Linked DNA regions of Homo sapiens. The protein of the gene in region 1 purifies or fractionates together with the protein of each later gene. This does not show direct contact. Each region holds a gene or a part of one and is shown in the gene's direction. Other genes may lie near its edges. The genes, in order: CD48, CTHRC1, PTPRK, CLSTN1, GPR107, PCDH1 and TRMT44.

Region 1 (3,884 bases):
CTAGAGATTTTTCCTATTTCCTTCATTTTGTCCTGTGATCAACCTAAATCAGCTCAGCTCATCTTGATTATATCTCCGAAATTAGGCTTCATTGGACTTAAGAAAAAAGAGAATGTATTAATATAAAGAATGGGGCAGGAGTTATCAGGAGAATTTTTCAACTTTCATAATGGGCAGGACAAAAAAACTTCCACTCATAGCTCCAGTCTAACCAGTGTATATGGAATAAGGACTCAGGCATTATACCTGGAGCCAGACAGACTTGGGTTCAAAACTGGTCAGTTGCTCACTAGCTGTGCAGCCTTGAAAAAAGATCTTCACATCTCTGTGCCCATATTAGGTAAGATTCTTTTGATAGCAAATAACAGAAACTAATTCAATGTACCTTTACCAAAAAAGGAGAATTTAGTTTAAGAAACTAGGGCTATTTAAAGCAATTCAAAGAGTTTAAAAGAGCTAGGAAGGGCTTAAGGGGAGAAGATTGAAAACCAGGTTCGGGCCAGAACCCCTAGCTTCAGGAATCTGTGGACTGTGCCTATGGATTTGGATTCCTGCCATTTTACACATGTTATCTCTCAAAACTTAGACTTTTGCTCCTCTGAGTTTCAATTCTCAGGGCAATTTAAAGAGAGAGAAACTGATAGTCCCAATTTAGTTCAGGTGTGTGTACCTGATCTAAACATTTTTGGTGAAAGGATCAGATTATAGGGCAGAAACATGGATATGGGGAGGGGCTCCAGGGGTTGGGGTATGCAATTCTTGTAGAAGAGCGGGGCTAAATAATCCAAGAGTGGTGTTCCCTTGAGAGCCTTGGGTTCTTCATCATATTATGAGAATAATTCTACTTACCTTTCAGGATGTTATTAGAGTCAAAGTAGATAAGGAAAGTGAAAACATTTTTTAAAATGTCAAAACATGCAAATGAAGAGTGTTGTATACATTCAAGTTCCACCAGCCAGACAGTCCCTGATCCAAGCAGTCAGATTCCCCTTCTAACTCTTCTTCCATGTCATATGGGCTGAAAATTCAGAAAGTCCTGGGAACAAAAAGATTCAAGGTCTCTTACAGTGGTGTTCTGGTTAACAAGCTCTACAAGATTTAAAAAAAAAAAAAAAAGCCCTAAAGCGTAGCATTTACCAACTTTGTAATTTCTGTGGTTTAAATACTGCTACCACAGTTGATTTCAATAAACTAATGGTTTCACAAAAAGCTTGCAAAATTTCTGAGTACTTAAAAATCCACAAACTGGCTTGGGCTTCAGCACATCCTGCCTGAGGGTAAGATTTCCAGGAAGTGATTAGCAGAAAAAATGGTCCTCTGGTCCAGCCCAAGCATTTCTGACAGCTCAAAGCGAGCATCTTGGAGCTGGACAACCCAAGCTGGCTCAATTAATTCCATCAGCAAAGTGCCCAGTGCTGTGCTGATCACCATGGGAAATGCAGAAGGAGTGTAAGATATGAGGCTAGAACACAGGAAATGGTGAAAACCAGGATAAAAATTGCTCAATTAAAACATATAGGGGAAGTCCAGGAAACTTTTATCACCTCTGTAGTCTGAGCAATCTTTTAGCGATCTGAGATCAGCTTCACAGAGGAGACAAAACTAGAGTTCTAGAGACCAGATTGGTAGAGCTTCTAGAGCCTCTCCACACATACAACCAAGAGGCAAGCTCTGATCTGGTCAATTCTCTGCCAATTTTTAATCTTATGGGATTTGAGTTGCATTGATTCTGCAGATGTTTCACCCTGACCAGAATGAAAAGATCTCAGAGGATTGCAGGTAAACCGGCCTTAGCCAAGGAAGGACCAGATGCTGGGACTATCTCTCATTCTCTCCGGCAGCAGTACAACAGTAATAATGGTAAAATGGCCTCTAGAATGTATGCAATACTTACACTCTTCAAAAAGCAATTATCCATGACAGGTGACGTTTTATCTTACTAACATTGCGCGATGAGGTAGAGTCAGTTTACAGATGACAGCAAGGGGGTTAACTACCTTGCCTAATGTCACTCCACTAGAGTCAAGTCCAGGACCCAGGCTGGTCTCACTCCAAAACTAGTGTTTTTGTGTCTACTTGCCTCCCTCCCTCCCTCCCTCCCTTCTTTTTCTTTTTCCTCTCTTCTCTTCCCTTCTCTCTCTCTTTCTTCCTTTCTTTCTTCTTTTTTTTTTTTTTTTGAAGGTCTTCTCCTTACCCAAGCTGGAGTGCAGTGGTATAATCATAGTTTATTGCACCCTGGAACTCCTGGGCTCCAGCAATCCTCCTACCTCAGCCTCCTGAGTAGCAGGGACTAAAAGTGCACACCACCACACCTGGCTACTTTTCTTTTCTTTTCTTTCTTTTTTTTTTTTAGAAACTGAGTCTCTCAATGTTGCCCAGGCTGGTCTCTTAACTCCTGGCTGCAAGCAATCCTCCTGCCTCAGCCTCCCAAATTGCTGAGATTACAGGTGTGAGCCGCTGCACCCGGCTGTGTTTTATCCTTTCTATCTCATAACTACTTCATTCATCCTTTCATGAGATACTTATAGAATACCTGCCATGTGGCAGGGATTGTGCTAGACATGGAGATACCAAAGTTAGCAGACCAATCTGTTTATCACAATTGATGCGGCTGGAAGTTACATGAAGTTCTTCTCTGTAGCTCTGCCAGAGTCTAGAAGGCTGGCACCTGCACTGGATGGTTGTGCAAAGGACTTTGCCACGCGCAGACAGGTACCTCTTACCTTAGGACTCTTGCTGAAGCTGAATCCGATAATTGGAAAGACAGACCAGCCAAGGTGCCCGCCATGAACCGTTGCTAGAGAAGGGTCCCTGAGCATCTCAGGCAGTTGATATACTAAGTCTGACCCCAGCAAGTCTCTGGGCTGTTCGTTCAGGCTCACACACGATCATAACCCCATTTTGTTCCCAGAGCATATGATGGACTGTGGCGCCCCCTCCAGGACGCAGCTTAGCTTCACTGCCTAGAAGCCGCTCTTGCAGTGAGTCTGTGAGGCCTCAGGAGGTCAAGGCTGCTCACTGGCTCCCTCTGTAGAACTTCTTCTTCATGACTCTGCCTCCTGGGGCATTCAGGCCCCTTCCCTGGATCCCTTTGTTCTTTGTTGGCTAAACCTTCACAGCATGAATGCCTCACTGTCTCATCTTATAACATCCTCCTCACTTTCAGACCCTGTACCCAAGCCTGTCATCAAAATTGAGAAGATAGAAGACATGGATGACAACTGTTATCTGAAACTGTCATGTGTGATACCTGGCGAGTCTGTAAACTACACCTGGTATGGGGACAAAAGGCCCTTCCCAAAGGAGCTCCAGAACAGTGTGCTTGAAACCACCCTTATGCCACATAATTACTCCAGGTGTTATACTTGCCAAGTCAGCAATTCTGTGAGCAGCAAGAATGGCACGGTCTGCCTCAGTCCACCCTGTACCCTGGGTAAGAAGGATCCCTGGGAGCTGAGGGGGGCACAGGGTAACTGGAGTTGTTTTGAACAAAGAAAGGCTGGGGGTCCTATTCAGCCTCCTTGCACAGTGTGGTGGTGAATCCCTAAGGTGTCTGGGAGAGCTGGGAGACGTGGGTTCTGCCACCAGCTCTACCACCACCTCCCAGCCAGCTTACCTCAACTTCGTGGGGGCTCAGTGTTCTCACCTGCAAAGGACGTTTGGGAGAGATCTCTGATACTCCTCTTCCCTCTCCCGCTCTAACAAAGCATAGTCCTAACATCTGAGGCCAGGGTCATCATAGAGTAGACTGAAACATCAGGGTGAGCAGGGAGAAGGAAGGGCAAGTGGGCGAGCAGCTGTCTAGAGGGGCTTCATTAGACAGCCGAAGTCAGCCAAGGAAAGAGGGACCGAGGTCATTAGACCGCCAAAGTCAGCCAGGGAAA
Region 2 (4,382 bases), on another chromosome or scaffold:
TGTTGTTATGGGTGTGGCAAGACTTCTGTTATGCCTGATTCCAGCCAGTTATATATAAAAGATCTCCTGCTCCAACCTGGCCCTACGTGGTGGGTAGCCTGGGCCCTGAGAATGTTTTCTTCTACAATGGACAGGCCAAAGGAGGACAGAGGGGGTTACAAAAAGATAATATCCATCAGAGGCAAAGAGTACTCAAAAGTGAACTTCTACCATTTCCACTGGATATTGATTAACTTCCCTGAGCCTCAGTTTCCTCATTCGTTTATGAGAGTAGCCCAGGAGGCATCTACCCCTCCCAACCCGCCAGGATTGCTGAGAGGACAGAGTACGCGTGCAAGGTTTTGCAATGTGCCAGAGCTTAGTAAGTGTTAGCACTTATGAAAACAGCGTTTATATATCATTTGGGTCATGGGACTCTTGGAAAACCTGATGATACCTATGGTTTCTTCCTGCCTCCGCCCCACCCCCACCTTCCAGCCTCCAAAAATGTCACCTCCAAAAAACAAATAAGGCAGGGCGCGGTGGCTCACGCCTGTAATCCCAGCACTTTGGGAGGCCGAGGCGGGCGGATCACAAGGTCAGGAGATCTAGACTATCCTGGCTAACACGGTGAAACCCCGTCTCTACTAAAAATATAAAAAATTAGCCGGGGCCGGGCGCGGTGGCTCACGCCTGTAATCCCAGCACTTTGGGAGGCCGAGGCGGGTGGATCACGAGGTCAGGAGATCGAGACCATCCTGGCTAACACGGTGAAACCCCGTCTCTACTAAAAATACAAAAAATTAGCCGGGCGTGATGGCGGGCGCCTGTAGTCCCAGCTACTCGGGAGGCTGAGGCAGGAGAATGGCGTGAACCCGGGAAGCGGAGCTTGCAGTGAGCCGAGATCGCGCCACTGCACTCCAGCCTGGGCGACAGAGCGAGACTCCGTCTCAAAAAAAAAAAAAAAAAAAAAAAAAAAAAAATTAGCCGGGCGTGGTGGCGGGTGCCTGCAGTCCCAGCTGCTCTGGAGGCTGAGGCAGGAGAATGGCGTGAACCCGGGAGGCGGAGCTTGCAGTGAGCCTAGATGGCGCCACTGCACTCCAGCCTGGGCGACAGAGCGAGACTCTGTCTCAAAAACAAACAAACAAACAAAAAACAAATAAGACTCGCCGACCCATGCCATAGATTGACGACCCTTGAAGGTGGCTCGTGTACCCAGGTTAAGCCACGTGTCTCTAAAATGTTCATTTAGGCGGCGCTGTGTTACCTGCGGGAATCCCCGACCTGCGGCTCCTGACCACGGGCCACCCCGCCCAGACCCTGCAGGCGGGCTCTCCACGAGGGTCTGCGCAGCCCCGCGGGGGTCCTGACAGGCCGAGCGACTGCAGTAGGAGGGGGCGGGCCCGGCTCTCGGTCCGCCCCCACGCCGGGCTCGGGGTGGGGGCTCGGGGCCTATTACGGGATGGAAGCTCCGGGTGTCGCGGGGGCGGGAGGAATTAAGGGAGGGAGAGAGGCGCGCGGGTGAAAGGCGCATTGATGCAGCCTGCGGCGGCCTCGGAGCGCGGCGGAGCCAGACGCTGACCACGTTCCTCTCCTCGGTCTCCTCCGCCTCCAGCTCCGCGCTGCCCGGCAGCCGGGAGCCATGCGACCCCAGGGCCCCGCCGCCTCCCCGCAGCGGCTCCGCGGCCTCCTGCTGCTCCTGCTGCTGCAGCTGCCCGCGCCGTCGAGCGCCTCTGAGATCCCCAAGGGGAAGCAAAAGGCGCAGCTCCGGCAGAGGGAGGTGGTGGACCTGGTGAGTCCGAGGGAGCCGAGCCGGGACCGCCGCGCTGGTGGAGGGGACCTGGCCGCGCGCCCCACGGGCAGGGCGTCAGTCTGGCTGTTGGGGGTGTCTGTCTGTACAGCTGTGTGTCGTGTGTCTTGCTGCGCCGGGGTGTCATGCTTTTTATTTACAGGTGAAGAAGGACCTGGTTATGCGTGCAGTGAGTCTTGGAACTCAGAGGGGAGACCAAAATGGGAGGCCATCGTGGAGCGGACATGCGATATGGGCCCGGTGGGTCTCCCCGAAGTACAGGGAGTCCCCCAATAATTTCTGGCCCCAGGGGGACCCCTTGGGAAGGGTGGGAGGGATAGGGCGGCAGTGAGAGTAGGATGAGGAGCTTGGGTACGTCCGAAGTGGACCTGGGAAAAACCCTGGCCTCGCTGATCACATGGACCTGGGCCTGGGCCAGGGCGGTGCAACGTGTCCTTTGTTGGGGCTGGTGGCCACGTCTGCCTGCGAGAGAGAATAACAACCCCCACAAAGCATCCGTCCAACTCTTTGTAACTTGAAGACTATGAGTCACGTTGGGTCATCTTCCTAGGGAGTATGGGCTGCAATTTACTTTGTTGGACAACCACAGCTGGGGCTAGGAATGGTTCAGAAGGTTTAAGGCCGGAAAGGGAAATGAAGGGGCCCGGCGCTAACCCTCTAAGGACCTGTTTTGCTTCTGTTTAAACCAAATGGGCAGTCTGTCATTACACACACCCTGGGTCTTCATATGTGGCCGCCAGGTAGGAGCATCACAGTCAAGCTACGGGAGAAAACAGTTTCCAGGAAACTGGAAATGAACGGCCCGAGTGCTTTCCAGGGGCTCATCTGTGGGAAGGTATGTTTGCTTAAAATCCTTCCCTCTAAAAATCAACAAACCCAGTGGAGGGCGGAGAGGTTCTCTGGCCTGTGGTATGAGGGAGCCTTTCAGAGCTACCGTAGTCCTTGGCATATTATAAACTTCAGTCTCACTTGCAGACAAACATGATTTACAGGCATTGCAAGACATAAGTTGGGGCATTTTTTTTTAATTAAAAAGAAAGTTTTGAATTTGTTAAGCTGCCATTTTAAACTGAGCTAATATACCAAGTTCCCTGGCAGCTAGTTCTGTATTGGATTCAAAAGTGCTGGGAAAAAAATTCCCGCCATTTCACACAGCACTTTTTGGTGGTAGGCTGTGTAATTTTGATCCACAAAAGGGGACTATGTGTTCAGGCAACAGTTCTATTTTAAGTGTCCAAATTATTAAAACTGTGCCAAATGAGTATGGTTCATGTGTAGTTTGCATTTTATGAGTCTGTAGTTATGATACACAAAATACCCATTTTTCCTGTGAAGCTTGCTATTTTCCCCCCTTCAAGGATTTACAGTACCTGTGGTTTCCCACAACTCTAGCCAGACTTGGAAAAGATTTTGCAGTCAGGCTCAGGTGCATCCTGTAGGTTGGATTTGGTTTTGCTGACAGAAGAAGTCCACAGTCATTAAGGTTTCAACAGATTCTATAAAGCAACTTCTTTGTATAGGATCTTTCAAAGCGTTCCTTTCAAGCTTCCACAAAGCTCTGCCCCCTGGTGGCCAGTGAAAGAAACAGGGGCGTATAAAAGTGCGCTTCCCTTCACATCTTTTTTTTTTCATTCCACAGACATTTATTGAGAGTACTAAGCATATGTTGGGTTAGCATTTTAAAGTAGAAGACTGATGTAACACCTGCGGAATCGAGTCAAGTAAAGTTATATAGTCTTTGAAATGTATCTTTTAGATGAAAAGGTGAATAAAAATTCCCAATATGGCACAATGGACATGTTGGGCCAGATAATTCTTGTGGGGACTTGTCCTGTCCGTTGTCGCGTGTTTAGCAGCATCGTTTGTACATACTAGATGCCAGTAGCAATCCCCTCTCCCAAGTTGTGACAACCAAAAATGTCTCTAGACATAGCCAAGTGTCCCCTGGAGGACAAAATTGTCCCCAGTTGAGATCCACTGATATATAATGAAGTAAAATTTAGTCTGTGTAGCATCTTGCCCTGAGGGGAATAATAGTGAAAAAAATCAAAGAATATCAGAAGCAGTCTTATTCCCATTTGAAATGTATGTCTAAACATTGTATATATCTGCTTGTGAGAGTGAATTAAATTACTAAAATAAAAATAAAGTCTAAAACACACCAAACTATTTTGAAATATTTTGCACTTTTAAAATGCTTTACTTTTTGTGTCTTTGAATACTTTTGTAATTGTTAAATGCTTTTTCTTTTCTTTTTTTTAACTATTTCTCTGACAGTAAATAAGTAGTAGTGTCTTTTTCTTCTTACAGTCAGGAAAATGGCGATGTCAAAGACTTAAAAAGTCATTTATCAAACCAAAACTCAAACTGGCGATGGAGACACAAATTGATTAGCAAGCATCAGTCTAATTATATAGGATTCTTCCCAGACAACTATTGGATTTTATCATCCAATCCCAGATACTGTAGTCAAAAGATAAGCTTTGAAGTTACTTTAATATCTAAGAAACTTTGTTTTTTGTTTTCATTGGGAAATATAGTTATACAGAATAATACTAGGCAACTTACACAAATAGAGGAAATGTTAGAGTAA
Region 3 (3,884 bases), on another chromosome or scaffold:
GGCATGGTGGCGGGTGCCTGTAGTCCCAGCTACTCGGGAGGCTGAGGCAGGAGAATGGCGTGAACCTGGCAGGCGGAGCTTGCAGTGAGCCGAGATTGCACCACTGCACTCCAGCATGGGCAACAGAGCGAGACTCCGTCTCAGAAAAAAAAAAGAAATAATAACAAGTCAAAATGAGTGGTGATTTGTGTGTATTTAGTGTGTATTTATAGCCTTTTTTTCATGCAGTCATACAGATTTTGACCTGGGTCACTCACAATGTGATGAGATCAAGCACATTAATTATAACTGAGTCTGGGTTCAGTGGCAGCTCACACCTATAATCCTAGCACTTTGGGATGCCAAGGCAGGCAGATCTTGAGGTCAGCAGTTCAAGACCAGCCTGGCCAACATGGCAAAACCTCATCTCTACAAAAAATATAAAAAATAGCCGGGTGTGGTGGTGCATGCCTGTAGTCCCAGCTACTCAGGAGGTTGAGATGGGAGGATTGCTTGACCCTGGAAGTTTGCTTAACCCTGGAAGGCTGTGGTGAGCCAAGATATTGCCACTGCACTCCAACCTGGGCAACAGAGTAAGACCCTGTCTCAAAAATAATAATAGTAATAATAATAATAAATGAAGTTTGTAGTACATGTTATTTCAAAATAGCCCTAAATGTTTTCACTGCCCTTAAAACACCCCTGAAGGTGGGTGAAAATAAAATCAAGGGCAGAGACCAAATTCTTTGATTGTTGATCCAGTGCTCTTTCCAACATGCCATAGCTTATCTTCAAATATGGCAAGCCCAGATGTTACTACAAATGATACCGTTTCCCAGTGTGATGAAGGGTCATTATCATAATGGACTGCCCGATTGCATTTTCTTTGGTTAAGGCAATGCATTTTGCAGGTAGCAGTGTTGTTTAGCGTACCTTTTCCTTTTAAGAAGAGGAGCCCTGAACAATGTGTGTCTTGTTTCTTTGTCACTTCTCAGGCTTCATTAGCTTTAACTACAAGGTCTATCAGCCTGTCATAGTAGCAAATGCCATTGCCTCGCACAAATCCTTCACTTTCTACTTGGCCTTCTAAATTCCTGATGGATCTGTGTTATACTGTTAAATGGGTCACACTGTCTTTTAACCTGGGTTCTCTTTTCTTTTTAGACTCTGAATTCAGTCACCCCTCGACTACAAGCTGAAGACTGCAGTATAGCGTGCCTGCCAAGGAACCATGACAAGAACCGTTTCATGGACATGCTGCCACCTGACAGATGTCTGCCTTTTTTAATTACAATTGATGGGGAGAGCAGTAACTACATCAATGCTGCTCTTATGGACGTAAGAGACTGCCCTCTTTGTTAGTGTAGAGTGTTGTGGAAAGCTACATAATGCAACTGAACACTGGCTAGTTTTCTTTTCGAGGAAATTAAAATAACCTAAAAAGGAAAAGTGGAAACTTTTATTGAAACACATTTTTTTGGAAAATGATTTTAGGTTTTCCCTATAGAGATTCTTAAGAACTGTCATTTTTATAGCTTTATTGTAGATTTGGAGCTTGATTGTCAATTATTATATTCATGTAGTAAATATTGCAAGTTATAAATTTCATCTTAATTATTTTCAGAAAAGAAAATCATGCCTTATCTATTTTGAATATAATTAGAAATGAATTTTTTAAATCACAGAATGCCAAATCCTACAAAAATCATGTTAATTTGGGAAATTTTTATTTCTGACATTTAATGTTTCAATAATTTACAATTAATTTGTTGGCCATTAATCAATAAGGACTATTATAAGTAACTAGAGAGGGGATGGATGGTATTATGTTAACACATCCATCATAATGAAAGAACAATCTTGCCCCATTCTAAAATCTTAAATTGCAGGGTGTTATATAGCCCATAGACAGAACAATATGGAAAGAAAGTTTTCTGTTTTAGTTTTTGGTTTTTTTTTTTTTAGACAGAGTCTCACTCTGTCGCCCAGGCTGGAGTGCAGTGGCATGATCTCAGCTCACTGCAACCTCCGCCTCCCAGGTTCAAGCAATTCTCCTGCCTCAGACTCTTGAGTAACTTGGAATACAGGAGCGTGCTCTACCACACCCCGCTTATTTTGTTTGTTTGTTGTTGTTTTTGTTTTTGAGACAGAGTTTCGCTCTTGTTGCCCAGGCTGGAGTGCAATGGCACAATCTCGGCTCACTGCAACCTCTGCTTCCCAGGTTCAAGCGATTCTCCTGCCTTTGCCTCCCAAGTAGCTGGGACTACAGGCATGCACCACCATGCACGGCTAATTTTTTGTATTTAGTAGAGATGGGGTTTCACCATGTTGGTCAGATTGGTATTGAACTCCTGACCTCAGGTGATCCACCTGCCTCGGCCCCCCAAAGTACTGGGATTACAGGCGTAAGCCACCGTGCCGGGCCTTTTTTGTATTTTTAGTAGAGATGAGATTTCACCACATTGGCCAGGCTGGTCTCAAACTCCTGACCTCATGATCCGCCCACCTTGGCCTCCCAAGGAAAGAAAGTTTTAAATTATGACTTTGGCCACTTTACTTTGATTATGTTGGAAAGAAGCAAGAAAGCTATCATGGTTTATAATCTTTTTAAACAGTTTACTGCCTTCATTTCTAGCTTTTGCCCTTTCTCCTATGAAACCATATCAAGGAGAAATTAGAAGCCACGGTTCATTTCTTTCTGACTATAACAGGCTTTCTAAGTTATTGTTCCTGTTAAGCCCACATTCTGTTTCTACGAGTAGTCTTCACCAGTTACTTTACTCTTTTTGGTGCTGCAAAGCGGAATAGTCTAAAGGCAGGCTCTCGTCCTTGCTGTGGTCACTCTTGCCTGTGAAAAGCTCTCATCCTTGCTGTGATCGGAGTCTTGCCTGGCCATTAATCACATCCACTGAAATCACATTAAATCCTAATTATACCTTTTCTTTTTATATTAGGTGTCTGGAAAGGCAAATATACTAAATAGAGAGATGGCATACAATACTTTTTCATTTCTGCATCTAAATATGGAATAAAAAAAGGATGTGTGAACAAGAAAAGGAGAAAATAATAATATTTAGAAAAGCATTGATGCCTTTGAATTTTTTGCCATTGGCATCTTTGTCAAATTTTTCTCAATGTCCAGATTGTCTCCTTTTCTTTTCTTTTTTCTTTTTCTTTTTGAGACAAGCTCTCACTCTGTAGCACAGGCTGGAGTGTCGTGCATGATCACAGATGACTGCAGCCTCAATCTCCTGGGCTCAAGTGGTCCTCCCACCTCAGCCTACCAAGTAGCTAGAACTAAGGTGTATGCCATCATGCCCAGCTAATTTTTTTTTTATTATTTTTTGTAAAGATGGGGTCTTGCTTTCTTGTCCAAGCTTGTCTTTTTTTCTGTATGAAAGTTGAAGCTTGTAATCCACCTGCTCTTACTGTCTGCTTAATCCCCTGTGATTCAAAAAAAAGACATTTCATAGTTAAAGCTGTTCTGGGGATTTAGTAGTGCAAATGAACCGTTGGAGAAGTAAAGCTGGTTTGATTTACAAGAACAGGGTTTATTGTTCACTTCTTTCTCCCTACCCTTTATCCCCATCATTAGTACCCTTTTGCCAGGTCTATGAGGGATTAGGAGCTAGGGCCAAGAATTCTGTAATTTCAAAGCCTTACATATGTTCCTGCATTTAGAGGGAAAAAGAATAGGAAGTCTTCAGTCTTCTCCTCTCTTATCAGCTCCTCCTCATGCATATCCCCTCCCCTGTGGCTCAAAAAATGAGTAGATAGCCGTCAGTCTGCTTTGACTTACCTTTGCATGGAGCAGACATTTGATTGGAAGAAGAGCTTCCTTTCTTCTAACTTTTCTCATTGTATTAGTTCATTCTCACACTGCTAATAAAAACATACCTGAGACT
Region 4 (3,884 bases), about 150 Mb from region 1:
TGCAGGCGTGGACACCATGGCCAGCTACGAGGAGGTTTTGCACCTGCTGCGCTATCGGAACTGGCATGCCAGGTCCTTGCTTGACCGGAAGTTTAAGCTCATCTGCTCAGAGCTGAATGGCCGCTACATCAGCAACGAATTTAAGGTGGAGGTGAGTACAAGGCTCCCACTGAGCAGGGCCAATAGCAGCAGTGAGTGAGGGCGCTGATTTGCAGCCCTAATATTCACAAACGCCAACCTCAGAGCATTCATGATGGCAGCTATACAGGCTCATTCTAGGGGGTCGCCTTTCCAGCCTGGGGCCTGCTGCAGGTTACACCTGGGCTTGTTGGAGTGACAAGTTGTGTTTGGGGTGAGCTGGGGTGGGGGGTGCTCCCCTTTCCCTGGCTGCCTCAGCCTGAGTTGGAGCCTAAGGAACTTTGCAGGGAGGTGACAAAGAGCAAGTGGCAGTTAATGCCTCTGGGGCTTCTTGAGATTTCCCATGAGAGAAACAGGAGGATGTGGTTTTATTTATTTATTTATTTTTAGAGACGAGGTCTCACTATGTTGCCCAGGCTGGTCTTGTCCCCCCAGGTTCAAGCAATCCACTTGCCTTGGCCTCCAAAAGTGCTAGGATTACAGGCGTGAGCCACTGTGCCCAGCCAAAGACACTGTTTTAGAAAGAGCAGCATCCAGGGAACCAAAAGTTCTCTGCATCTGTGCCAGGTCACTGGCCCTCCTGTGAATGAAGTCGAGTCCTCGGCCCAGGTTGAGAGGGGCTCACGCAGGGACCCGCACGGGCAGGACCAGTGCTGCTGAGGCTGGCGCTGGTGACTCACAGGCCACACAGGCTAGAGGGTAGCTCCTCCTGCTCTGAGGTCGTCTACAGACCTATCCAGCAGCTGCTTCATCGCTCAGGCTCTCTGTGGCCTGGAGAAAATTGACCCAAAGTTACTCTTAGCAATGGAATATCACCATGAACTCAAGAGCAGAATGCTAAATTCGGTGCCTGTTTTGTTTGAGTCAAAGGGTAAGAGATATGAAAGGAAATCCATGGCAGTGATTGGTGCTGTCTTTCACACGGCTGTGATTTGAGGAAAAAGGTCTACGCCAGTGCTTCCCAAACGACCCATGGGGAAGGACCATCGGCTTCTTTTTCTGCTCTTGTTTTGGGCATAATCTTTTATAAAATGCAATAAAAATGGATTGCAGCCAGGTGCGTGGTGCTTGCCTGTAGTCCCAGCTACTTGAGAGGCTGAGGTGGGAGGATTACTTGAGCAGGGAAGTTCCAGGCTGCAGTGAGCCGTGATCATGCTTGTGAATAGCTACTGCGCTCCAGCCCGGGCAACACAGCAAGACCCAGTCTCAACAAATACTAATAAGTAGAAAAGTGATACATTTCTGGAATGTGTGAGAATATTAGATTGTTATAGCAGTTTCTAAGTGCTTATTACTCTTTTTTGTTTGGTTTTTGTTTCTTTTTCTTTGTTTTTGTTTTTTAAGTGCTTACTCTTGATTTTTTTTTCTGTCCTTTTCCCGTAGCTCCGTTTGCCCCCAGCTGCGGTCCAGGAGCCACTCTGAGTGGCACTGGTCATGCCAGCTGCGGGACTCCACTGTCACCTCTTGGACAGGCTCAGGATGCCTGTCTCCAGCGATCCTCTCTTTCTCTGCTATAGGTGAATGTAATCCACACGGCCAACCCCATGGAACACGCCAACCACATGGCTGCCCAGCCACAGTTCGTGCACCCGGAACACCGCTCCTTTGTTGACCTGTCAGGCCACAACCTGGCCAACCCCCACCCGTTCGCAGGTAGGACATGGGGAGGGAGACCAAGCGGAGATGCTCCATGCCGTCCGCCCTGCCCCCACCCCACCGTGGGCACAGCCTCCTGCTCAGCATGACCGCCGGTCTTTCCCTGTCCCAATTATTCCCCATCACACACAAGGAAACTAAAGCCCTCGAAGAGGGCAGATGATGTCACCCGCAGCCATGGAGCAGGACGTGGCCGAGCCAGGTTGGAGGCCCATGGCGAGCTTTTCCTGGTATTTCCTCCTGGCCTGTGGGTTCAGCTGAAGCGTGCTGTCCAGCCCGTTTTGACCAGGCACAGCCGAGGAGGTCAAGGGCACAGTGGCCTTCTGGGCCGAGTGACCTCGCATCCCGCCCCCTCATTCTCCCACAGTCGTCCCCAGCACTGCGACAGTTGTGATCGTGGTGTGCGTCAGCTTCCTGGTGTTCATGATTATCCTGGGGGTATTTCGGATCCGGGCCGCACATCGGCGGACCATGCGGGATCAGGACACCGGGAAGGAGAACGAGATGGACTGGGACGACTCTGCCCTGACCATCACCGTCAACCCCATGGAGGTAGGAGTGGGCGGGCGACCTCCAGGACTGAGAGGCAGCACAGGCCAGGGCCTCCGAGAAGCCGGTACGGCGCGGCTCCTTCAGGTTCACATGCTTTCCATCGCGTCATCTGCTCAGCAAGCCTGGGGCTTAGGTGTCTTCGTGGGTAAACCGAGGCTGAGAGAGACCTTATTCAAGGCCGTTCTGCCTTAAGTGTAGAGAAGAGCCATGCCAGGGCTTGGCGCTCTTGGGTCATGGTAATCCTGAGAGAGTTCTCTGGTGGGGCAGCTGAGGTGCTGTCCCAAGCTGCTTTGTATGTGGGTGACTCCGTGGGTGCTGACTGGAGCTTTGTTTTCCCTTCACTTCTAATATAACTTCCGGTGCCGTCCTGGCTGCTCTGTCGCTGGGGAGGGAGACGCTGGGGCAAGTTCTCCTTCCTCTGTGGCTGTCGAGAGGAGAATGCCAGGTGACGGGGCTGTGGGCAGGGCCGGACTCATGTGGCCGTCACTTCTCCTTGCCAGACCTATGAGGACCAGCACAGCAGTGAGGAGGAGGAGGAAGAGGAAGAGGAAGAGGAAAGCGAGGACGGCGAAGAAGAGGATGACATCACCAGCGCCGAGTCGGAGAGCAGCGAGGAGGAGGAGGGGGAGCAGGGCGACCCCCAGAACGCAACCCGGCAGCAGCAGCTGGAGTGGGATGACTCCACCCTCAGCTACTGACCCGTGCCCCCGGCCACCTCGGTTTCTGCTTTCGAAGACTCTGCTGCCATCCGTTCTCCCAGTCCCAAGGGTCCACGATGTACAAAGTCATTTCGGCCAGTAGGTGTGCAGACCCCTCCCCGCCACGATCGTCGCTGTGCTTGGTGTGTAGGACCCTAGGCTCCCCGCCCACCCTCTGCCTGGTCGCGCTCTTCAGTCCCACGAGGAGCTGACACGTCCTCTCTGGCCGCCATCCGGCTCGCACAGGGGCCTCCCAGCGCCTCAGGCCCCGCGTTTGTGTCTGGAGTCTCCCCCCGGGGAGAGGACACTGGCCCCTCGCACTCCAGAAAAGCCATGCCAGCTGGGCTCGTTGACAAAGGGTAAAACATGCTCACTCCCACCCGGTAATCATTTTTTTCTTTTTTTAAAAAAAGTTTTTATTTTTTCCAAACTAGTGCATGTATAAATAATGGCAGGATGGGGGGTACTGTGTAGATGATTAACTGACTTTTTAATATTTTGTAAATAAATCGGATTCCTTGTGTCCTTTGTGCTAGTGTAACCCGGGACTGGAATGTAAAGTGAAGTTCGGAGCTCTGAGCACGGGCTCTTCCCGCCGGGTCCTCCCTCCCCAGACCCCAGAGGGAGAGGCCCACCCCGCCCAGCCCCGCCCCAGCCCCTGCTCAGGTCTGAGTATGGCTGGGAGTCGGGGGCCACAGGCCTCTAGCTGTGCTGCTCAAGAGACTGGATCAGGGTAGCTACAAGTGGCCGGGCCTTGCCTTTGGGATTCTACCTGTTCCTAATTTGGTGTGGGGTGCGGGGTCCCTGGCCCCTTTTCCACACTCCTCCTCCGACAGCAGC
Region 5 (3,884 bases), on another chromosome or scaffold:
TTAAGAAAGTTCACAAATTTGGCTGGGCGCAGTGGCTCACGCCTGTAATCCCAGCACTTTGGGAGGCCGAGATGGGCGGATCACAGGGTCAGGAGATTGAGACCATCCTGGCTAACAAGGTGAAACCCCGTCTCTACTAAAAATACAAAAAATTAGCCAGGCGTGGTGGCAGGTGCCGGTGGTCTCAGCTACTCGGGAGGCTGAGGCAGGAGAATGGCATGAACCCGGGAGTCGGAGCTTGCAGTGAGCCAAGATCACGCCATTGCATTCCAGCCTGGGTGACAGAGCGAGACTCCTTCTCAAAAAAAAAAAAAAAAAAAAAAAAAAAGAAAGTTCACAAATTTGTGTTGGGCCGCATTCAAAGCCATCCTGGGCCGCATGCATCCTGGACAAGCTTGTTCTGAGTTCTTGCCCAAGGAAATGGAAATCATTTGAAGAGAGCCTGTCAGAGCAGCAACTTTAGATTGTCTGTTTTGCTTGAGACTGAGTGAAATAGGGTACTTGATCAGATTAGAGACCCATAATGGCAAGGATAACATGAAGAGGTCACTGAGTACCAGGAGTATGCGTTGATCTCTTAAAACCTGGCTGCGCCTGGTAGCTCACACCTGTAATCTCAGCACTTAGGGAAGCTCGTTTGAGGTCAAGAGTTGGAGGCTGCGGTGAGCTATGATGGCGACACTACACTCTAGCCTGGGCGACAGAGCAAGACCCCATCTCAACAACAGCAACAAAAATTAGCCAGATGTGGTGGTGCATACCTATAGTCCCAGCTACCAGGGAGGCTGAGGTGGCAGGATCCCTTGAGCCTAGGAGTCAGAAGCTGTAGTGAGCTATAATGGCTCCAGCCTGGGGGACAGAGTGAGACCCTATTTCTTAAAAAAAAAAAAAAAAAAGACAAAGCAAAACAACCTTTTTATTGTGGAGAATTTCCAATATACTAAAGCAGATAGAATAGCATAATGAACTCCCATGTGCCTGTCACCCTCAATAACCATCAACACATGGCTGATTCTGCCTCATCCCACATACATCAATTTCTGGTTCTTATTTTTTATTATTTTTAAAATTAGAAATGAGTCCTCTTATATTTTTATTGTCTTACTCCATGCTACATTTTCCACCATTCTTCTGGCTTTCCCAGTCTTCTCACAGTCCATCTCTTTTGACTTTTCCCTATATTCCTTGCCTTTTTATTTATTTATTATTATTATTTTTTTTTTTTGAGACAGAGTTTTGCTCTGGCACCCAGGCTGGAAAGCAATGGCGCGATCTCAGCTTACAGCAACCTCCGCCTCCCGGTTCAAGCGATCTCCTGCCTCAACCTCCCAAGTAGCTGGGATTATAGGCATGCGCCACCACGCCTGGCTAATTTTTGTATTTTTAGTAGAGATGGGGTTTTGCCATATTGATCAGGCTAGTCTTGAACTCCTAACCTCAGGTGATCCACCTGCCTCGGCCTCCCAAAGTGCTGGGATTACAGGCGTGAGCCACCGCTCCTGGCTATTTATTATTTTTGTTTATTTTTTTAAAGACCTGTCAGCAGGAAATACTCCTTGCCTTTTAAGAACAACTTTATTGAGGTATAATTTACATACCATAAGATCACCCATTTTAACTGTATAATGCAATGATTGTTAGTAAGTTTACCGAGTTGTACAGCTATGACCACAATCTAGCCACAGAACGTTTCTGTCACCCCATAAGATCCCTTGTGTTGGTTTAGAATCAATTCCCATTCCCACCACTAGTCCCAGGCAGCCACTAATCTACTTTCTGTCTCTATAAACCTACCCTTTCTGGATGTTTAATGTAAGTGGAATCACAGGATGAGTAGGCTTTTTTTCTTTTTTTTTTTTTAGACGGAGTCTCGGACTGTTGCCTAGGCTGGAGCGCAATGGCGTTATCTCGGCTCACTGCAACCTCTACCTCCCAGGTTCAGGCGATTCTCCTGCCTCAGCCTCCCGAGTAGCTGAGATTACAGGCACCTGCCACCACGCTCAGCTAATTTTTGTATTTTTAGTAGAGACAGGGTTTTGCCATGGCGGCAAGGCTTGTCTCGAACTCCTGGCCTCAAGCAGTCCGCCCGCCTCGGCCTCCCAAAGTTCTGGGATCACAGGTGTGAGCCACTGCGCCCGGCCGATAGGTAGGCTTTTGTGCCCATCTTTCTTTCTTTCTTTTTTGAGCTTCGTTCATTTTGTGCCATGTGTCAGTAATTCATTCCTTTTTACTGTTGAATGGTCTTCCAGCGTGTGGATATATCTTCTTTTGCTTAGCAGTTCACCAGTCGATGGATGTTTGGGTTGTTTCCACTGTTTGGCCATTATGAATGATGGTGCCATAAACGTTCACATTGCAAGGCTTTGTGGGGCCATATGTTTTCATTTCTCTTGGATGATATCCAGGAGTGGAGTAGAATTGCTGGGTCATATGATAGATTTATGTTTAACTTTTTAAGAAACTGCCAAACTATTTTCCAAAGTGGCTCTACCATTTTACATCCCACTAGCAATTTATGAGAGTTCTCTTTCTTCACAATGTTATCAGCATTTGTCATTGTCTTCCTATATTATTTTAAAGCATATTGGCTGGGTGTGGTAGCTCATGCCTGTAATGGCCTTTGGGAGGCCAAGGCAGGTGGATCACCTGAGGTCAGGAGTTCGAGACCAGCCTAGCCAACATGGTAAAACCCTGTCTCTACTAAAAATACAAAAATTAGCCGAGTGCGGTGGCGGGCGCCTGCAATCCAAGCTACTGGGGAGGCTGAGGCAGGAGAATCACTGTAACGCAGGAGGTGGAGGTTGCTATGAGCTGAGATTGTGCCACTGCACTCAAGCCTGTGCGATAGAGTGAGACTCCCATCTCAAAAAAAAATAAATAAATAAAGCAAATCAAAGGCATTGCATCATTTCATTCTTAAATATTTTGATATTACCTGTAAAAAATAAGAGCTCTTTTAAGAACATGGCTACAATGCTATTATAACAAAAAAATCCTTAGTATCATATGTCAGATCAGATTCAAATTTTCATTGGTCATAAATGGATTGAAAAAGTTTTGAAAAATCAGGATCTAAGTCACATCCTCATACTGTGATCAGTTAATACGTCTTTTTTTTTTTTTTTTTTTTTTTGAGATGGAGTTTGTTCTTGTTGCCCAAGCTGGAATGCCATGGTATAATCTCGGCTCACTGCAACCTCTGCCTCCCGGGTTCAAGTGATTCTCCTGCCTCGACCTCCTGAGTAGTTGGGATTACAGGCACCTGCCACCACACCTGGCCAATTTTTTGTATTTTTAGTAGAGACGGAGTTTCACCATATTGGTCAGTCTGGTCTCGAACTCCTGACCTCAGGTGATTTACCCGCCTTGGCCTCCCAAAGTGATAGGATTACAGGCATGAGCCACCAGGCCCAGCGTGATCAGTAAATAAGTTTTATTTCGGGGGGAGGTTGGGGGGCGCACGGAGTCTCATCCTGTCCCCCAGGCTGGAGTGCAGTGGCGCGATCTCGGCTCATTGCAACCTCCGCCTCCCAGGTTCAAGCAATTCTCCTGCCTCAGCCTCCTGAGTAGCTGGGATTACAGGCACCCACCACTACGCCCAGCTAATTTTTGTATTTTTATTAGAGATGGGGTTTTGCCCTGTTGACCGGGCTGGTCTCAAACTCCTGACCTCAGATGTTCTGCCCACTTTGGCCTCCCGAAGTGCTGGGATTACAGGTGTGAGGCACCGCGCCCAGCCTATCCATTTCTTATTAATGGAATAAAAATGATAATCCGAGTTTTTTTTTTTTTTTTTTTTTTTTGAGATAAGGTCTCATTGTGTTGCCCTGGCTGGAGTACAGTGGCTATTCACCAGTGCAAACATAGTGCACGATAGCCTCCAA
Region 6 (3,884 bases), on another chromosome or scaffold:
GGTGGAGGGGGGGGGTGGGGGGTGGATCCAAATGGAGTACAGATAAATTCCTGCTTCCTTTAAAGAGATTAACATTCACACCAATCTGATAACGCCGCACACACTTTAGGGAGGGGCCTGTGCTTGGGGAAGGCCATACAGAGGAGGGGATGTGTTTGATTTATCTAAAGACTCTGTGCATTCAGTGAACATTTGCTGAGAGTCTACTATGTGCCCTAAACAGAGAAGACTTACATTTTACCCCAGGAAGTTCTTAGTGGTGTAGGGGAATCGGGTAAGTGAGCAAGTAAAAGAGCAGTGGTCACACAGCAAGTACCAGGAAAGGCTAAGCCTAGAGAGCAAAATAACAACAGTCATTCAAGAGCTGCCAAGTGCCCACTGTGTGCCAGGTCCAGGGCTAAGCCCTGAGGAGGTAGGAGCAAACAAAGTAGAAACTCTCCTGCTTTCTGCTCACCATCTTGGAGCAAAGACAGACAATTAACACATTTTCCAAACAGGTACACAACTACAATTGTGCTAAATGCTTTGAAGGAGTCCTTTGTTGAGTACCCACATTTAGCCCACAGTATCTCAAACACCCTAGGAAATAGGTAGTATTATCCCCATTTTACAGGTAAGGAAACTGAGGCACTAAATCTTTGCTTCAGGTCATGCAGCCAGGAAGTGAGCAGCTGGGTTTGCCTCAGACTGTCTAATGCCACAACCCTCGCTCTTCTCCACCCTGCTGCCTTACATTCGCCAAATGGTATACAGAAGCAACCAAACAAAATGGACAAATAGTCATTGAGTTAGAAGCACTGTCATGGCAGATTGGACCAGTCTTGTTTACTTCTGCATCCCAGTGCCCAGGACAGAGCCTGGCATATTGTAAATGCCCAATAAACATTTGTTGAATGCATGACTGAGTCCCTACAGTGTACCCAGATGTGCAAAGGTGCATTGTTAGGGGGCAGGGGATGAGTGAGTGTACAGAGTACTGTCCCTTCCTTCGTAGTGCTTTGTGTTTGCCTGGAAAGGCAGAGAACTCAGGAATAGGTGCACAATACTGAAGCTGAACAACACAGGCGGGCGGTGTCCCAGTCAGCCCCATGATTCATTGCCTTGGGATTGGAGCAGACAATAAGTGGCTGTGAGTTGGAGGAAGGAGAGGTCACCGTGGGCAGGAGAGGACTGTGAAGGTTTCCTGGAGGGCCAGAGCCTGCCCTCAGTGGGATTGATGTGGGGTGGGTGTTCCAGGTGTGGGGAAGGTATTCCAGGTAAAAGTGAGGAAGTGGGGAAAGGAGACTGAACCAGAAGCCTCCAAAGAAACTGCTGATCCAAAGATTTTGGATTTGAATAAAGGAGGGACTGGCCATGATTTTGTTGGAGAGGAGGGGGCATTCAAGACAGAGACAGTAGCTGGGTCTAGCTGGGATCTGCAAATGCACGACCTCAAAGCCAGGGGAGATGGGCAGAAGAAGGGGGTTATTGTTGTGATGGGGTACAGCTTGTGGTTGACTAGGGCAGAGGTTGGGAGAGGCAAGTGTGAAGTAGGGGCTGGATATACGGAGATGGATGTCAAATAAGAGCCAGATGTTCATCCAGAGACCAGAGGGTGTGGGGTGGGGGAGTGGCCAGGGAAAGGCTGCTGGTGTCATTATCATCGGCAGCTCTGTCCCAGTTAGACCTGCTGGGCTCCCTGTTGCTAAGGACAGGCCAGGGCAGCTCCCAATGCCAATTCCAGGGCTAGTCAGCCCTGACCACAGTTCTGACCCCAATCTTGACCTGTGTTCCCTTGTACGCACCTGCCCATGGCAGCAGGAGGGAGAGGAGAGGAGCCCTAGCAACTGTGCATGTTCCTGTGTGCATGCTCTGGGGCATGTGTGCATGCTCTGGGGCATGTGTGCACGCTCTGTGGCCTGTGTGCACGTTCTGGGGCATATGTGTTGGGGGAAAGTCGGGAAGGCTAACACCTACTCCTCAACCCTAACCATTTTCACAAGCCTTGCCCAATTCAAGCTGGCCTTTTATGGGGGTGGAGAATACTGGGCACCGTGGGTGATTGTCAGAAAAAGAGGATTTGAGATGTCATACCTCATGCATATGCACTGACTTGGCATCTCAGAACAAAGAGAAATGAGACATCATCCCCTCTCCCTCCAGCCAACCTTAATGGAGCCCAGTGTGACAAGTCAAGGTCCCAGGGTCTGGGGTGTGTAAGGACGTACTTGTGTCTCTTTCCTACCATGCATGTGGGGAGGGGTGCTCCAGTTGGGGATGCTCGAGGTCTCACCCTTCCACTGGCTCTCTCTCCCTATCTCAGTATCAAGGTAATTACCATCGGTGACTAAGGCAGGATGCTCGTGAGAAGGAGGTGTTGGGTGAAGCACAGAGCAGAGAGCAAGGAGGAAAAGAAGGAAAGAGGGCGGGCAGCCGGGCTTGGGCCCAGGGAGCGTCAGGTGGGTGAGGGTGTTCCATGGGCGGGAGCTGCTCTAGGCATGCCAGGCCTCTTACTGGCTCCTCCAGCTGGGGCAGACACTGCTGCTACACCCAGCTGTGGATGAGATTCAGGGATCTGAGTTTCTGGAATCGGGGTTCTGTGCTGGGACTGACTGCTCTTGTGGAGAATCGTGTGTCAGTGGGAGAGGGTGAGTATGGGGCCAGCTCTGGGCAGCTCAGGGCCAGGCTTTTCTTCCCAGCTCATGGCCTCTGTTTTGCCTCTTCCCCTTGCAGCCCTCCTGATTCTGGGGCCTCCCAGGATGGAGCACCTGAGGCACAGCCCAGGCCCTGGGGGGCAACGGCTACTGCTGCCCTCCATGCTGCTAGCACTGCTGCTCCTGCTGGCTCCATCCCCAGGCCACGCCACTCGGGTAGTGTACAAGGTGCCGGAGGAACAGCCACCCAACACCCTCATTGGGAGCCTCGCAGCCGACTATGGTTTTCCAGATGTGGGGCACCTGTACAAGCTAGAGGTGGGTGCCCCGTACCTTCGCGTGGATGGCAAGACAGGTGACATTTTCACCACCGAGACCTCCATCGACCGTGAGGGGCTCCGTGAATGCCAGAACCAGCTCCCTGGTGATCCCTGCATCCTGGAGTTTGAGGTATCTATCACAGACCTCGTGCAGAATGGCAGCCCCCGGCTGCTAGAGGGCCAGATAGAAGTACAAGACATCAATGACAACACACCCAACTTCGCCTCACCAGTCATCACTCTGGCCATCCCTGAGAACACCAACATCGGCTCACTCTTCCCCATCCCGCTGGCTTCAGACCGTGATGCTGGTCCCAACGGTGTGGCATCCTATGAGCTGCAGGCTGGGCCTGAGGCCCAGGAGCTATTTGGGCTGCAGGTGGCAGAGGACCAGGAGGAGAAGCAACCACAGCTCATTGTGATGGGCAACCTGGACCGTGAGCGCTGGGACTCCTATGACCTCACCATCAAGGTGCAGGATGGCGGCAGCCCCCCACGCGCCAGCAGTGCCCTGCTGCGTGTCACCGTGCTTGACACCAATGACAACGCCCCCAAGTTTGAGCGGCCCTCCTATGAGGCCGAACTATCTGAGAATAGCCCCATAGGCCACTCGGTCATCCAGGTGAGAGGCCCCCTCCGTATAACTGTCAGGGTGACCCACCACTAGAAATGGGAGCCCACCCAACCAGGTGAGAGTTCCCTTCACTTAGGGGAAAAACTGCCAGAATACTGTAGTGAGACCCCTTCTCCCCAAACTCAGCCAGGGGAGTCTTTCCCACCCCACCCCAGCAGGTGATATTACTTTCCTCTATCAGGCTACTTAGGTGACAGTGAAATAGCATATGAACAGTTTCCCGTGACCCCTAAGGCAGACTCAAGCTGGGGGAACCTCTGAGAAGTAAAACTCCCGCCCTAGTCAAGTAGATCCTTC
Region 7 (3,884 bases), on another chromosome or scaffold:
CTGTTAGGTGGAAAGCAATTAAACACAAGAAGTTCTCGAAATGGGAGTTTGAAGACCTGGAATGGGGGAGGTAAGCTGTCCACCATCTTAGGGAGGGGCTAGCACGCTCCCAGGCTTGAGGGCAGGAATTCACGTCTTCAGAACCGACATGAAATGGTGTGGCCCTGTGACTACACACTTTGAAAAAGCCATTGATGGTGGGTGCATAGGCTCTCTTCAAGCAAATTCTTTAAAATTTTCCAAATAGCTCTTATAAACATAAAGGACTTTGTTATTTCCAGGGAGTGACAGAGTTTGGACCCTTAATTAACTTTTACCAAACATGCAGGTTTAGGGGCTAGAACTACTCATTTTCAATCTAGAAATTATCCAAAGAGAAAACAGGTTACTGAGTGCAAGCAAAATGCACTGTCCCCTTGAGTATGTGGTAAGATTTGGAGCTGTTGTGATTCGATAATTTAATTCTCTTTGAAATCCCCAAAACACAACAATCATCCATGGCAAAAGGAGAAAATTACATCGATTGTTCTCATGGGGTGAGTGGTGTGCTGAAATTATGTTCTCAGGTGAGTGGTGTGTTGAAATTAACGGCATTCAGAGAGCCAGCCAGGGCTGTAAGGACCTCGCCTCCTTCCGGGCAGGGATGCTGCTTGGCCGCCAGAGGGTGGTGTAGAGCTGCAGCCAACGCCTGGCTTCTCTTGCAGTTTTGGGAACTGGAGAAGAGCACGGAGCCCCATCCCCTCCCGGCCCCTCCGTCGGTGACTTCTGCCTGGCTGCGCATTTGAGGGAAACCCTTCTTCTCCAGGCTTTGCTTTCCTCACCTATGAATGTTGGGACAAAATCATACCCGTTTCCTTCTTCATCCTTTGTCCTCTTGTACCATGTGTACGTGGGATGGGACCGGGCCATGGAGCATAGACGGCCCCTCCAGAAATCATTCGAACCTGATGGTACCTGGTCAGCAGAGCCTCTAGCCATCTGGCGAGAGTGGCCCTGGCTCAGTGGCTGATGGGGCCGACTAGCTGCAAACCACCAGGCACCGTGGGGCCTCTGGGTTGGCCCTGCTGACTAAAGGCACCCTGCTGTGGTGGGGCTGGAGCACAGAGGAAGAAGGCTGAGGCTGGCAGAGCATGGAGCCCACCACAGGCAACTGGGACCCAGAGCCCCAGGGACATCAGTGTGGTCTGAAAGTTCCCACGTGCAGTAAACAGTGACAGTTCTTGAGTGCAGTTTGACCTTTAAATTCCCAGGAGATGACGGGCACACAGATGTCAGCTGTGCCTGGGATGGACGGCTTTCGGTGGGTGAGGAGGAAGGAGGAACAGACCTGGAGATGGAGAGCGGGGATGGGTGAGCGGTGGGCTCAGTCCTGCCTGCGCCTTGGAACTTGGGAATCAGGGCACCTAACAGGCTCTGGACCCCCGTCCCCTCCAGATGGGTGTCCGTGGGTCTGGGGCTTGTTAGGGACTCTCCACGTGGCCTTGGCCTCTCAGCCCACTGCCTCCCTCCCGCCCACAGGCGGCCTTCAGGGCCTTTGGTCGCCCCCACCCAGCCTGTCCTCAGGCAGGCACCTCTGCGTTTCTGTGCCTGTGGGCCATGTGTGGCTCTGTCTCCAGGACCTCACCCATCCTAGCTCGGCGTCTGTCCCTGTGGGACACTGCTGAGAAATAGGGTAGGAAAGGGCCCTGCCCTCAAGAGGCTCCAAGTCCTGCCTGGCTAGGAGTCAAGACCGCACACGTCAAAGGATGAGAAACCAAGAGGCCGGATATGCCAGGCCAGGAGGCACCCATGGCTGAGTGTGAGATTCCCTGTTATGGAGTCCATGCTGGGCCAGAGCCGGGGCAACAGGGAAGGCTGACTGGGACAATATGTGATCTTTTTTAAAACACTCCCGCTCCTCTCAGAATGGATTTGAGACAGCCGAGAGGTGGACTCAGAAGGTTGGCCAGGCTGGGTGGGCAGGATTCTCGCAGCAGCTGCGACAGCGGCTGCCAGCACCAGGCTCCTGGGTCAGGAGTGTGGTGTCCTGATCCGTAGGGGTCTGACAGGCTCAGCTGCATACAGACAGGCGCCGTCTCCTCCGCTCTCCTGCAGCTTGGGAGGGTGTGGATAAGATGTGAGGTGCAGCACCTGGCAGATAGGAAGTTCCTGGCAAATACATGCAGGAAAACCAGCTTTCATTCATATCCAATTTGATGTTTTGGTAATAAATGACTTTAATGTCACCAGGTTTTCTGATTAGAGCATTTTGAAATACCTGCAGGCTCTCAAAGCAGAAATTCGAATGGGAAAGAGACCATCACTGTGGTGTCTGTGCTGTTCCTTTTTTTAGTGCCTAGCATGGCCTTGCTGGCCACCCTAGAGCCGGTAGCGCCAGGCTGGCTGCCCCATGGTTGGAGCAGCCACTGGGAAGGCTCAGGCCCCAGGCTTGCCAGCTTGGCCTTCCTTCTTTAGTCTGAGAAACCCTGGCTCCAAACAGCCACCCCCCTTCATGGGTCACCAGTGAGAAGAGCTTGAGGTGACCACCCAGAGCAGGCAGCATCACCTGACGCCTGGCCCTGTGCGGGCATGGGGCATGTGTGGGGCTGCGTCTTGTCAGGCTGTGCCACCTTAGCTGGGTGGGGACGCCACGGCCCTCACGGTTTGGTGCGGTGTGGTGTGGGTTAGGTGAGATGGAATCGTCCTTCGTGCTGGAGTGCATAACGCGTGTGAGTGTATGGAACTGAAATGGACTGTTTCTGCCTGTGTGACAGGTTCGTAATATTTTGCTGTTGTTTTGGGGAAAAAAAAAACCCGTTTTTCCACAGAGAGCCTATCTCTGGCAGAAGTAGCCAACGAGCTGGACACGGAGACCCTGCGGAGGCTGAAGCGGGAGTGTGGGGGCCTGCAGACGCTGCTCCGGAACAGCCACCAGGTGTTCCAAGGTACGGAGTCCGCCTCTCCCCCGCCGTTCTTTCCTTCTTTTTCCCCCTTTTTTCAGTTAAATAATGTTTTATTTTAGAGTGGTTTAGACTCACTGAAGAATCTGACAGAAGCAGCAAGTTCCGCGGTGCCCCACCCAGCTCTGACGTGGGTGGCATTTGACCTCAGGGTGGGACGTGGGTCACCCCGTTCCCTCCTTGCTCCTCTGGACCTCGTCCCATGCGATGTCCCCAGGCTGGTCTCTCTCCCCCTATGCTGTGCTTGCTGACGCCTCAGCTCCACTTGCTCCACGCAGGACAGAGCAAGTCGGGTAGCCGCTGGCCGGTCCCCTGTTGGCTGGGGGTCATTGTTTGGCGTCATCTTTAGCTGCTGCAAACTGAAAGCATCCTGAGCCACAGAGCCAGGGTGGGGAGTGGGAAGAGTGAGCCCTGCCCCACAGGCGGAGGCCTGGACTCCTGTGGCCCTCGCCCCACGGGCCTGGGCAGGCGGAGGTCCTGGTACCCAGTTCCCCTGCTCCCCAACGCCCTGTGACTCCAGGACTGCCAGGGTATGGGGAGGCAGGAGGGCCCTCCACCCGCTTGTCCATTCACTCAGCCCGCAAAGCAAGGCAGACACATCCCTGGCCTTCTGGAGCCGGTGGTGCAGTGAGGGAGGGGGGAGATGTAGCAGGTGCTCACCCAGGTGCCAGTGGTGTACACACTTCCATCATCTGCAGCTTCCAGGTGTGCACAGAGGGGGCAGGAACAGGGCAGGGAGCCATGGTTTACCAGCGCCAGCGGCTGGGGAGTTTGCCATAACTTGCTTTGTGGCGCTTTTTTTTTTTTTTTCCTCTTTCTGTAAGTATTTTAAAGCAAATTCTAGCTAGCATGCTATTTCACCCCTAAGTACTTCCACGTGCATCTTTAAGAATAGTAGGTGTCTTCTTGTGTCACCACCATGCCCTAAGCACACATTTCTGTGAG

Evidence for each region.
Region 2: the proteins of CD48 (region 1) and CTHRC1 purify together in Homo sapiens (affinity purification with mass spectrometry; one large-scale study listed by BioGRID and IntAct). This does not show direct contact.
Region 3: the proteins of CD48 (region 1) and PTPRK purify together in Homo sapiens (affinity purification with mass spectrometry; one large-scale study listed by BioGRID and IntAct). This does not show direct contact.
Region 4: the proteins of CD48 (region 1) and CLSTN1 purify together in Homo sapiens (affinity purification with mass spectrometry; one large-scale study listed by BioGRID and IntAct). This does not show direct contact.
Region 5: the proteins of CD48 (region 1) and GPR107 purify together in Homo sapiens (affinity purification with mass spectrometry; one large-scale study listed by BioGRID and IntAct). This does not show direct contact.
Region 6: the proteins of CD48 (region 1) and PCDH1 purify together in Homo sapiens (affinity purification with mass spectrometry; one large-scale study listed by BioGRID and IntAct). This does not show direct contact.
Region 7: the proteins of CD48 (region 1) and TRMT44 purify together in Homo sapiens (affinity purification with mass spectrometry; one large-scale study listed by BioGRID and IntAct). This does not show direct contact.

Annotation. Positions count from the first base shown.
Region 1 is NC_000001.11:160,680,751-160,684,634, reverse strand, and holds part of CD48 (CD48 antigen isoform 1 precursor), read left to right. Parts: exon of another isoform or gene 1-1,429; intron 1,430-3,166; coding exon 3,167-3,433; coding exon of another isoform or gene 3,434-3,540; exon of another isoform or gene 3,541-3,884. UniProt on the Homo sapiens protein: Glycosylphosphatidylinositol (GPI)-anchored cell surface glycoprotein that interacts via its N-terminal immunoglobulin domain with cell surface receptors including CD244/2B4 or CD2 to regulate immune cell function and activation.
Region 2 is NC_000008.11:103,370,036-103,374,417, forward strand, and holds the start of CTHRC1 (collagen triple helix repeat-containing protein 1 isoform 1 precursor), read left to right. Parts: upstream 1-1,502; 5' UTR 1,503-1,621; coding exon 1,622-1,771; intron 1,772-2,471; exon of another isoform or gene 2,472-2,516; coding exon of another isoform or gene 2,517-2,624; intron 2,625-4,382. UniProt on the Homo sapiens protein: May act as a negative regulator of collagen matrix deposition.
Region 3 is NC_000006.12:127,978,549-127,982,432, reverse strand, and holds part of PTPRK (receptor-type tyrosine-protein phosphatase kappa isoform b precursor), read left to right. Parts: intron 1-1,143; coding exon 1,144-1,317; intron 1,318-3,884. UniProt on the Homo sapiens protein: Regulation of processes involving cell contact and adhesion such as growth control, tumor invasion, and metastasis. Negative regulator of EGFR signaling pathway. Forms complexes with beta-catenin and gamma-catenin/plakoglobin.
Region 4 is NC_000001.11:9,729,668-9,733,551, reverse strand, and holds part of CLSTN1 (calsyntenin-1 isoform 1 precursor), read left to right. Parts: intron 1-5; coding exon 6-151; intron 152-1,655; coding exon 1,656-1,791; intron 1,792-2,161; coding exon 2,162-2,346; intron 2,347-2,846; coding exon 2,847-3,044; 3' UTR 3,045-3,884. UniProt on the Homo sapiens protein: Postsynaptic adhesion molecule that binds to presynaptic neurexins to mediate both excitatory and inhibitory synapse formation.
Region 5 is NC_000009.12:130,056,624-130,060,507, forward strand, and holds part of GPR107 (protein GPR107 isoform 3 precursor), read left to right. Parts: intron 1-3,884. UniProt on the Homo sapiens protein: Has been proposed to act as a receptor for neuronostatin, a peptide derived from the somatostatin/SST precursor.
Region 6 is NC_000005.10:141,868,260-141,872,143, reverse strand, and holds part of PCDH1 (protocadherin-1 isoform 2 precursor), read left to right. Parts: intron 1-2,516; exon of another isoform or gene 2,517-2,539; coding exon of another isoform or gene 2,540-2,627; intron 2,628-2,712; coding exon 2,713-3,575; intron 3,576-3,665; exon of another isoform or gene 3,666-3,884. UniProt on the Homo sapiens protein: May be involved in cell-cell interaction processes and in cell adhesion.
Region 7 is NC_000004.12:8,468,277-8,472,160, forward strand, and holds part of TRMT44 (probable tRNA (uracil-O(2)-)-methyltransferase), read left to right. Parts: coding exon 1-70; intron 71-704; coding exon of another isoform or gene 705-1,009; exon of another isoform or gene 1,010-2,225; intron 2,226-2,807; coding exon 2,808-2,924; intron 2,925-3,884. UniProt on the Homo sapiens protein: Probable adenosyl-L-methionine (AdoMet)-dependent tRNA (uracil-O(2)-)-methyltransferase.